2 separate regions of the Homo sapiens genome follow, and region 1 is linked to region 2. The links come from fine-mapping of genetic effects on gene expression. A gene starts in region 2. The other region holds a variant in brackets. All regions are shown on one strand. Distances are between the middles of the regions. Region 1 has its middle 37 kb from the start of MIR5707. Region 2 holds the start of NCAPG2 (non-SMC condensin II complex subunit G2).

Evidence for each region. PIP is the estimated chance that this variant, and not a neighbour inherited with it, causes the effect.
Region 1: its variant is fine-mapped to the expression of NCAPG2 in lung (TOPMed, PIP 0.92).

The regions. Positions count from the first base shown.
Region 1 is chr7:158,625,539-158,630,862 of GRCh38, forward strand. No RefSeq gene overlaps it. Among named protein-coding and RNA genes, the nearest start is that of MIR5707, 37 kb to the left of the region's middle. The variant C/T (reference allele first, on the strand shown) is at 2,553.
Region 2 is chr7:158,701,930-158,707,303 of GRCh38, forward strand. NCAPG2 (non-SMC condensin II complex subunit G2) reads right to left here and starts at 2,875. Exons shown (of 28, transcript NM_017760.7): 1 at 2,795-2,875; 2 at 1-9. RefSeq lists an enhancer at 1,636-2,214 and silencers at 2,792-2,891, 3,042-3,131, 3,252-3,531.

The sequences.
Region 1 (5,324 bases), 76 kb before region 2:
CCAGGCTACATTTTACTGGAGGTTCTCACCGGCACAAAAAGGAAAAGCAATAAAAGCATCCAGACTGGAAAGGAAGATGTAAATGGCATTTATTTTTAGATAACCTGATCGTCTGAGTAGAAAATATGACAGAGCCTATAAATAAACTACCACAAGTCATCAATGAGCTTAGAAAAGTAGAATACAAAGTCAACATACAAAAAGAAACTGCCTTCCTCTATTCCAGTATAAACAATTAGAAGTTGAAAATTTAAAAATACTACCATTTACAACAGCTCTATAAAACACAAAATACGTAGGGATAAATTTAATAAAACATATGGAAGACCTATATCATGAAAATGACAAAATATTGGGAGAAATTAAATGTCTGAAAAACTAGACAATGGTCATGGATCAGACGACTCAACACTGTTGAGTGTCAATTCTCCCTCTGCCCGAAGAGCTTAGCAGCCTAGCAGCCTAGCCTCAAACTGTGTTTCAAACTGTTTTTTCTTTTCCTTTTCCTCTTCCCCTTCCCAGTCTCAAGATAAAACTTTGAGACAAACTGCATATGTGTTACCTTTCATCTCGAAATACAGCCTTGGAATGTGCTGCGAACCTCCACTCCCTTTCATTTTTATTTTTGGAAACAGTCTCGCTCTGTCGCCCAGGCTGGAGTACAGTGGTGCAATCTCCGCTCACTGCAACCACCACCCCCTGGGTTCCAGTGATTCTCCTGCCTCAGACTCCCAAGTAGCTGGGATTACAGGCGTGTGCCACCACGCCTGGCTAATTTTTTGTATTTTTAGTAGAGATGGGGTTTCACCATGTTGGCCAGGCTGGTCTGGAACTCCTGACCTCAGGCAATCCACCCACCTCAGCCTCCCGAAGTGCTGGGATTACAGTCGTGAGCCACCGAACCCGGGCCCTCCACTCTTCTTTCTTTTCCCACTGTATGCTCCCATGCTTTATGCACATGTATTTACCCAGATACTAGTTAAGCACACACCATGCTCTCTTATCTGGCCATTTATTTGCTTAGAAGCTTCAGGGGTCGGGTCCTAAAAGGGACTAGGCAACTCCGGAATTCTCTTTCCAACAAAAGATTATTTCAAGGCCAGAACCCTCTCCTGGCTGAAGAGTGACTACAAGATTGACTGTGATTAATTTATAACCTGGTAGGATGCACAATGGTGCCGGCCCCTTCACCAAATGGGACAATAATTCAAGAAGGGCCACTGAAGCAAGTCACGCCACCTGGCACCTCTTAGTCCCCCTTGCCTCTTCCGCATTCCAAACCCTTTCTGTAAAACCCTGCGTTCCCTCCACAAACTGAAGAGTGGAACTGCTCTTCCCCTTGCCTGCACAAATAATAAAGGAATATCACTCTTTCTCATCATAACTTATTATTTTGCCTTCTTTCCATAAGTGGCCGGACTCTTTTTGCGAGTTAATCCCCAGCTTGATCTGTAAATTTAGTGTAATCACAATCAGAATTGTACTGCATGTTTTCGTCTGTAGAAATTGACAAATTGATTCTACAATGTATATGAAAAGGCAAAGGAGCTAGAAAAGCCAAAACCACATCAAAAAACAGAAAGCCAATTGGGGACTTGCAATTCACAATTTTAAGACACAGGTACGGCTCAAATAAAAAGGACCCTGGGAATTGGCGTAAGGATGGCCATAGCTCAGTGCACAGAAAAGACTCCAGAAAGAGCCCACACAGGTATAGCCAACTGCATCTTGACGAAGATGCAAGGTGATTTCATGGAGGAGGAAAGGGTGCAGGAACAACGGGATAATCATATGGGGAAAAACCAAAAACAACAAACTGAACTTGGACTCCACATCCAAGATTAACTTAAAATGGATTACACACCTAATCATAACAGCTCAAACATACACTTACACAGCAGAGCTTCTCAACATCACACCATTGACCACTGGGCTGGAATGACTCTTTGTTGCAAGGGCTGTCCCGTGCCTCCTACCTGAGGCATTTTGTGGCAACCCAGCCCACCAAGACACCTGTGCCACTGACGGAAAGAGGGGCAAACTCATGCCCAGCTGAGCCCTGCTGGTCTAGATGAAGGGCAGGTCCAGAGATGTGTCATGGAGTTCCTTGATAAAAATATTACCTTCTAATGGTGCAGGGACTACTAGATATCCATATGGCATAAAGAAATAAATAAATCCTTACCTCATACCATACATAAACATTAATTCAAAATGGATCACAGACCTAAACACAAGAGCAGAGCTTTTAGGTTTCGATAAGGAGATAATAAAAGCAGCCACAGACACCAATGTAGAAATAACAGCAAGATTCTCGGCCGGGCGCAGTGGCTCACGCCTGTAATCCCAGCACTTTGGGAGGCCGAGACGGGCGGATCACGAGGTCAGGAGATCGAGACCATCCTGGCTAACACGGTGAAACCCCGTCTCTACTAAAAATACAAAAATTAGCCAGGCATGGTGGCGCGCGCCTGTAGTCCCAGCTACACGGGAGGCTGAGGCAGGAGAATGGCGTGAACCCGGGAGGCGGAGCTTGCAGTGAGTCGAGATTG[C/T]GCCACTGCACTCCAGCCTGGGTGACAGAGCGAAACTCTGTCTCAAAAAAAAAAAAAAAAAAGATTCTCATCAGTTAACTATGCAAGCCAAAATAAAACATGTTATTTCATACAGGACAACAAATAAACATGGTTTTTTACATGTCTTTTTATATAGAACACAAAAAGCACAAACTACAAGAGTATAATTGATAAACAGGACTTCTTCAAAATTAAAATTTCCTATTTGAAAGACACCATTTTAAAAAATTAAAATAGGGCCAGGTGCGATGGCTCACACCTGTAATCCCAGCACAGAGGTCAGGAGTTTGAGACTAGCCTGGCCAACATGGTGAAACCCCATCTCTACTAAAAATACACACACACACAAAATTAGCCAGGCATGGTGACATGCACCTGTAATCCCAGCTATTCGGGAGGCTGAGACAGGAGGACTGCATGAACCCAGGAGGCAGAGGTTGCAGTGAGCCAAGATCGCACCATTGCACTCCAGCCTGGGTGACAGAGCGAGACTCGGTCTCAAAAATAAAATATAAAATAAAATAAAATAAAAATAGGAGCCACATACTGTAATACCCAACCCTAATAAAAGACTTGTATCCAGAACATCTAAAGAAGGCTTAAAACGCAACAAGACAAACAATGCAATAATACAACAAAAACAGATGAGAGACTTGAGCTGGTATTTCACCAACACAGATACATAAGTGAAGTGTGCAGCATCAGTCCTCGGGCAACACAAATTAAAGACACCATGAGTTACCACTACACAACCAACAGAATGAAGATAAAAACACTGAAAATAACCATTGTAAGGGAGGATGATAGGAATATAAAATGTTACAACAACTATGGAAAACAGTTTGTGAGATTTGTTTAAAAGTTAAATGTAGACTTAACATATTAACCAGAACTTCCACTCCAAGAAACTGACCCAGTGAAACAAGCCCACACAGACTTGTATACATGAAGGTTCCTAGCAACTTTATCTGCAATAGCCAAAGGACCATCAATAAACAGCCAAAGGGGAATCAATAGGTGAGTGGGTAAATAGCCAAACAACCATCAACAGGTGAATGGATAAACAGCCAAATGACCCTCAATAGGTGAATGGCTAAGCCACCACAGTGTGGATGAACCTCAAGACTGTGGCAGTGTGGGGCCAGGTCCCAGCAGCCGTTGTAACAAACGACGCTCAATAGGTGAATGGCTAAGCCACCACAATGTGGATGAATCTCAAGACTGGACAGTGTGGGGCCAGGTCCCAGCAGCCGTTGTAACAAATAACCCTCAATAGGTGAATGGCTAAGCCACCACAGTGTGGATGAACCTCAAGACTGTGACAGTGTGGGGCCGGGTCCCAGCAGCCGTTGTAACAAACTTTAGATGTTTCTGATGCATATTAAAGCCTGAAAACCACTGATCTAGAAAATCAGAATAATTTAAATTACAATTATTACTGTCTTTGGCCACCCAACAGCTATTTATTTTTTTGTTCTGGGATCTCTCCCCTTGAGTCTTGGTGAGTGGTGAAGAATGTCTCCTGATGCAGGGAATATTTAAATGTTTAAAGTGGTGAGTACTTGCCTTCCCGGCCATGCGGCCAGGATTCTGCCAGTCTTTGGCTGAGGAGTGAGTGCCACAGCAGGGGTAGGGCAGCTCCCAACCTCTCCCTACCCCTCTAACTGGGTGCAGAAGTAACATTGGTGTTGGAACATTGCAGGTGAATTCTGGGAGCAGAAGTGCTAATTAAAATGTCAAGTGCCCGGTGGCAATCACAGGGATTCATCCTCAGACTAGCTTTGAGTTATGGCTTTCAACTGTCAAGACTGAGTTCTCCCAAAGACACTGGGGGCTTAAACAATGTCGGCTCAGGAATGTAGCTCAAAACTGTAGATCCTCACAGTCCAACATGGCAGTGAGAGCTCCATCCATCACAACCCCATTCCAGGCAGAATGTAAGAAAGGTAAAGATACACAGATAACTTGTAAGGTGCCCATGACAACTTCACTATTATCTTACTGGAAGCACCTGGACACATGCCCACATGTAGGTGCAAGCAATGTTGGTGAATGTGGTCTTTATTCAGGAGGGGCACGTACCCAGAGACAAAATCAGAGATAGTATTTCTGTGGAAAAAGAGGAGAATAAATAACAGGGGAGAGACCAGCAATCTCTCCCTCACATACTCAAGTCGCCAGTCTTAGATCTGCACTAACCCTTCCAAATAAACGACTCTATCTGATAGAACTATATTTCCGTTATCAATGTCACTCACTAATTCAGAATACGGTTTAGTCAGCCAGGATGTCTAGAAAGTCATATTTTCAAAATTATCTGAATTAAGCTGTAATATTATTCCACTCCCCACCTTCCATTTCTCAGATCCCTTGGCAAAACCTTACCCTGAATGCTCATAACTACAGTAAGTAGTCCACTTCTTGTACCGTCTCAGAGAAATACAGGCACAGAAACACTGGAATTTCTTTACTTTTTTGCTCAGGGGCTGAGGACAGAACAAGCACAAAATTTAAGCTGCACTAATTTCCAACCAACTATGAGGTGGTCCACAAGGGCCCACAGGATCAACCGTGACACAGAATCTTTGACTAAGAGGGCCAGGAGCATGGGGCCATGAAACAACTGGCATCCACCAGGTGGGCGAGAGGTCAGGGCAGCCTAGGAGGCTGTCAGCACCACTGCTACCAGAACAGCTCTCAGAAAGAAAAGACCAGAGTAACAGTGTTTGCCTTTAGGCTGAGCTACTTGGT
Region 2 (5,374 bases):
TTTGTAACCCTAATGGAAAACACAATCATACTGAAACACTTGCAAATATATCTTTTCCTGTAAGATTTAATTTGATATTAACATCCAAGAACTGCAAGAAAATTCCTCAACCACGTATGGCAGACAGTTTCTAAAAACATTCTGACATAAAACACGCTATAATATCTGAAAAACAATTTACTTATTTCCTTTACTGGGGATGTGAATAACATGATATTAATGATATTTTATCAACAATTGTTAATAAAATTACCAACTAAGGAGGGAGAAATCCAAATAGCCTTAGGAAGCTCACCACCATCTCTCCCTTTTTAGTACCTTAGCAAGATGCTGGCTCGGCAGAGCTGAGTTGATTCAACAAAAGAACAATCTGATCCCAGCTGCAGATTCTGAAGATGCTCCCTTTCTAAAGGCCATTCCTCCATCAAAAAAATCCCACTGTTAGTGTCATCTTGTTATTCAAAGTGAGATGGAAAACAGTGGCCCCGGGGGTCACCTGGGATCTTGTTAGACTATGCATTAGGCATGCTCAACCACAGCACCCTCCTCCCACCCCTTCGGGATAATGAGAGCTCAGGGGACTTTGTATACCCTCCATCCTGCCTGTGTTTTTCCAGGAAATTCTATTTCGCATTCACAATACCTGGTGCTACTGGTGCCCTACTGAAAAAACATCAACCTAAAGATGAGGTAATAGCAAATGATGGAACACATTTGCAGTAGGAGCCCCCTCACTTTAAAAATAAATGAAAACCACCTGCACCATTATAAATAGAGCAATATGGAAAATTATTGCCAATAATTATGGGGACAGAGAGTCATCTTAAACATATAATACTAGATTTTAATGTCCAAATTGAACAAAGCAAAAATAACCTCAGTTTAATGACTCCCGAAATAAGTTAACAGTGAAGTCTGGTCATCTCATTCCTCAACTCAAATGGCTGAACTATGAACTACGGTCATGGACCACATAACATTTCAGTCAACAACAGACCACATGTATGACCGTGGTCCCATAAGATTATAATGCCATATTTTTACTGTGCTTTTTCTATGCTTAGATATGTTTAGCGATGCAAATACTTGCCATTGTATTACAGTTGCCTACAGTATTCAGTACAGTAACATTCTAGGAGCAGTAGGCTACACCATACAGCCTATGTGTGTAGGCTACACCTCTAGGTGTAGGCAAGTCCACTCTGTGATGTTCATGCAATGATGAAATTGCCTAACGACAACGTGTCTCCCTCTTTAAATCAAGCATGACTGGCACATTTTTCACTGACAAAGAAAATGGGGAGGGAAGGGAGAGTGGCCAGTAACAAGCATAATGAATAGTGGCTAGGACAAATTCATGATTTTAGAAAAATAATCCAATAAGGTGCAGCAAACACATGGAATCATACATCTTCGCCCGGCAAGTCTGTGAACACTCTCCACTTTTTCATAGTTCTGGTCACTTTTCTTGTTTGCTCTATTTCCAAGTGTACCTCTTTGGCATGTTAGTCCAACTTACAGTAATACACTTCCTCTAGACTACCAAACTTATTCCTATATTTCCCATTTTCCCTCTTATATTAGTGACTGTAATTTTTTAATGGTTAATTTTTCAATCTATCTCCCAAAGTGGCAATATTCCATGTTTCTTGTACCATATGTGCATAAGACCTCAGCCCTGCAGCCAGAATGCTACTTTCAAGGTAAGGAGTCATCTCACCATCCAGTTATCAGTCCGAAGAGCAGGTTACTCTTCGCACAGGAGGTCTGGTACTAAATCAAGATGAGCATTAAAAAGAAGAAATCCCTGTTACCTTCTCACCACCTGTGACTTCCCACTCCGTCCCCAAACTCCTTCCTCATGGACACAACAAGAGGCACCAAACCAGCAACAAGAGTTCAGGAGACTGATGTCTCTGAGGACAATGCCCACGTCCACAGCTGGGGAGATACTCTCTGAGGGCAGTGCCTACACCCAGGGCTCAGGGGGACTCTCTCTAAGGGCAGTACCGACACCCAGGACTGAGGGGACTCTCTCTGAGGGCAGTTCCCATGCCCAGGACAGAGGGGGTCGCTCTCTGAGGGCAGTGCCCATGCCCAGGACTGAGGGGACGCTCTCTGAGGGCAGTGCCCATGCTCAGGACTGAGGGGGTCGCTCTCTGAGGGTAGTGCCCATGCCCAGGACTGAGGGGACGCTCTCTGAGGGCAGTGCCCATGCCCAGGACTGAGGGGGTCGCTCTCTGAGGGCAGTGCCCATGCTCAGGACTGAGGGGGTCGCTCTCTGAGGGTAGTGCCCATGCCCAGGACTGAGGGGACGCTCTCTGAGGGCAGTGCCCATGCTCAGGACTGAGGGGGTCGCTCTCTGAGGGTAGTGCCCATGCCCAGGACTGAGGGGACACTCTCTGAGGGCAGTTCCCATGCCCAGGACAGAGGAGGTCGCTCTCTGAGGGCAGTGCCCATGCCCAGGACTGAGGGGACACTCTCTGAGGACGGTGCCCATGCTCAGGGCTGGGGGGTCGCTCTCTGAGGGCAGTGCCCGCGCCCGGGGCTGGGATTTTCCTCCGACACGGACAAGAAGGACGGGCGTCGCTGAGCTGGGTAGGGGGGATGGCCCGGGGTCGCCAGTTCCGTCCAGTTCCGTCAGAGGCAGCACTGCCCGCACGCAGGTCGGCCGCCTCCTTAGGGGAGGGGAGGCTGGGACCCCGACCAGCCGAGGAGGGGCTTCCCGCCCGATCCCTGCTACTTCCCAGCCCCTGCTCTGAACCCAATCCCGGCTCGGCACCGCAGCTCTTACCTGGGCTCGGGGACCCGCCGTTTCCCGCGCTCGGACCAGATTCAAACGCACCCGCCGGCGCCCCAGACGGGCCCCGCCCTCCCGGTCGTCATCAGGCGCCGCTCTCGCGAGAGCTGGGGCGCCGCGAGCCTCGGGCCTCGCCCACACGCCCGGCCCGCCCCGCCTCCAGATCATGCCCCGCCCACATGCCCGCCAGTCTTCTTCCTGTCTATGCCCCGCCTCTTAGGGCGCGGCCTCGAGCAGCTAAGCCCAGTGCCCTACCGGGCACTACGGAACGCGCACGCGGGGCGCCACAGCTGGGGAACCCATGCCCGGTCCGCGCGCCGACGTCCACTGCGCGCTCGTGCGCGTCCTGGGGCCTCCGCGGAGGGAGTGCGCGGTCCAGGAGAGGGCGGGGCGCTGCGAGCGGGCGGTGTTGTGGGAAGGAGGAAGGAGAGGAAGAGAGAGAGGGGGAGAGAAAGGAAAGGCTTGGGGCGGGGAGAGGCCACAGGGCCGTGTCTGGATCCCCGGGAGGACCCCACCCCGACCTGGCCGGCCCCCGTGACCGCCCTCCCTGCCGAGGGGGCACCTGTCCGGGTGGTCCGCAGCCTGCACACGGTAGGTGCACCCTGGGCAGGTGCTTCCCCCGCAGGAGCCCCTCCGGCCAGGTGCGGCCCCTAACAGGTGCTTCTCCTGCAGTTGCTCCTCCAGCAGGTGAGGCCCCCGGCAGGTCAGCTGCCCATAGGGTGGAGAGGGAGAGGCCTTAGCGGGGACCCTCGGAGGCACCCGTGTGAAGGAGGAGTAGCAATGTCATTCAATTCTTTGGACTTAAATGCCAAAATCACATACTGATGTATCAATCTCTTTTAATTTGTGTCAGCGAATAACTTGATTGGGCGTTCCCAATTTTTGTTGAAAGCAAATTCTTAGAAAACGGTGCTCTTTACCACCGAGCTCTGCATCCCTTCGTGAGGACTTGGCCTTCCCTGGAGCTATATTCTTTCATGCTTGAGATGTCTAGAGTGGTATCTGTTTTCCTGGCTTAACTCAAGCCAGAGGTCTTGGCGAGATTGAAGTCGTTGCACTGTGGGAGCACAGCACCAACCAATAGGAACATCATGGGAGCCACAAGTGCACTTGTAAATTTCTAGTGACCACATTAGAAAAATGAAGATAAATAGGTGACATTAATTTTTAAATATGTTTTATTTAGCCTAGTATATCAAAAATATTTATGTTACTTGTTGGAATATCGTTTCAACAAGCAATATAAAATTATAGCAGGGAGAAGACTGGTTTACTAGGAAGCTTGCAACAGTGAAGCAAGGCAGGCTGCAGAGGGGAGGGAGAAGACCCACTCAGAGGATGCTGAGTCTGGGACCCTTGTCAACAGGTGGCCGATATCTAACATTGCCTATTTCATCCTGGGGCTCCAGCCACCTCTGACCTCCTCCTCCCTCCATACACAGATCCTTCCCTGCCATTTCTTGAATTTTGGTGCCCTCATCTTCTCACTGCTTTCTTCTTAGCAATTTCCTTCATATCCAAGGTGCAAACTGCCACCTTCAAGCAGTGACCTCTGCATCTGGATTTGCAAGACACGGTTATTTCTGAACTCCAGAATTTTCAACAGCTCACTGCCTACTCCCACGCTGGTGCTGACATGCATCCAAAACAGATATCGACTTCCCCTCCCACCCCTGAATCCTGCCCCTTTCCTTATGCTGGTCCCTCCTCCAATCAGCCATCTGTTCCTGGGGTTTCCACTTCCTGAGTAGGAATAATGTAACAAGTTACGCATGTGAGCTCTGAAGCTGTACCACCTGGGCTAACCTGGTTCTGTGCTCACTAGCTGGTGACCTTTGACAAGCCATGGACGACTGAGCCTCAGTTTCCTCATCTATCAAATGGGACCTACTTAAGTACTGAGCCTCCTCTAGGGGGTTGTTATGAGGCCTAAATGTCTGTATAATGCAGAGCTCAGCCTCCTCTAGGGGGTTGTTATGAGGCCTAAATGTCTATGTAGTGCAGTGCTCAGAGGCACGTGGAAGCAGGGCAGCAGGAGCGCCCAGTGCACCCCCAATGCACCTGCCCATGCAGCCACTAATGTCATAGGATCCTTTGGGTATCGCTTCACCAGCTAGAAACCTCCGTGGCCAGCGGTGCCTCTGCTAGAGTTTTGCTCGAGCCCACTCAGCCCAGCAGGTTGCACTCGGCTTGCACTACCAACCCAGATCCCACGCCTGCCAAGGGTGAGCCAGGTGCAGAGCGGCAAGGGGTATGTGAGCAAGCGAGCATGGGGTCCAACCACTGCGCACACCCAGCCATGCAGCTGCTGTGGTGGAGCAGGCAGCTCTAGGTGCCTGCACAGCTGCCGGCTCCATGCAAGGCTGTGGCTGGACCAGAGGTACCACAAGTGGCTTCCACTGCAGGCATCAGCATCTGGACAAGGGGAACATGGTGGCACCCGAAAGCTCACAGATGCCAGGAGCCACAGAGCCCCAAAGGGGGGTTACACTGTGTCACAGCCCTGGCTCGGGGAGCCCCGAGGTCTGGGCTCCCAGAAGGGCCACAGCTCTTCTGTCCTTCTCATCACCCACA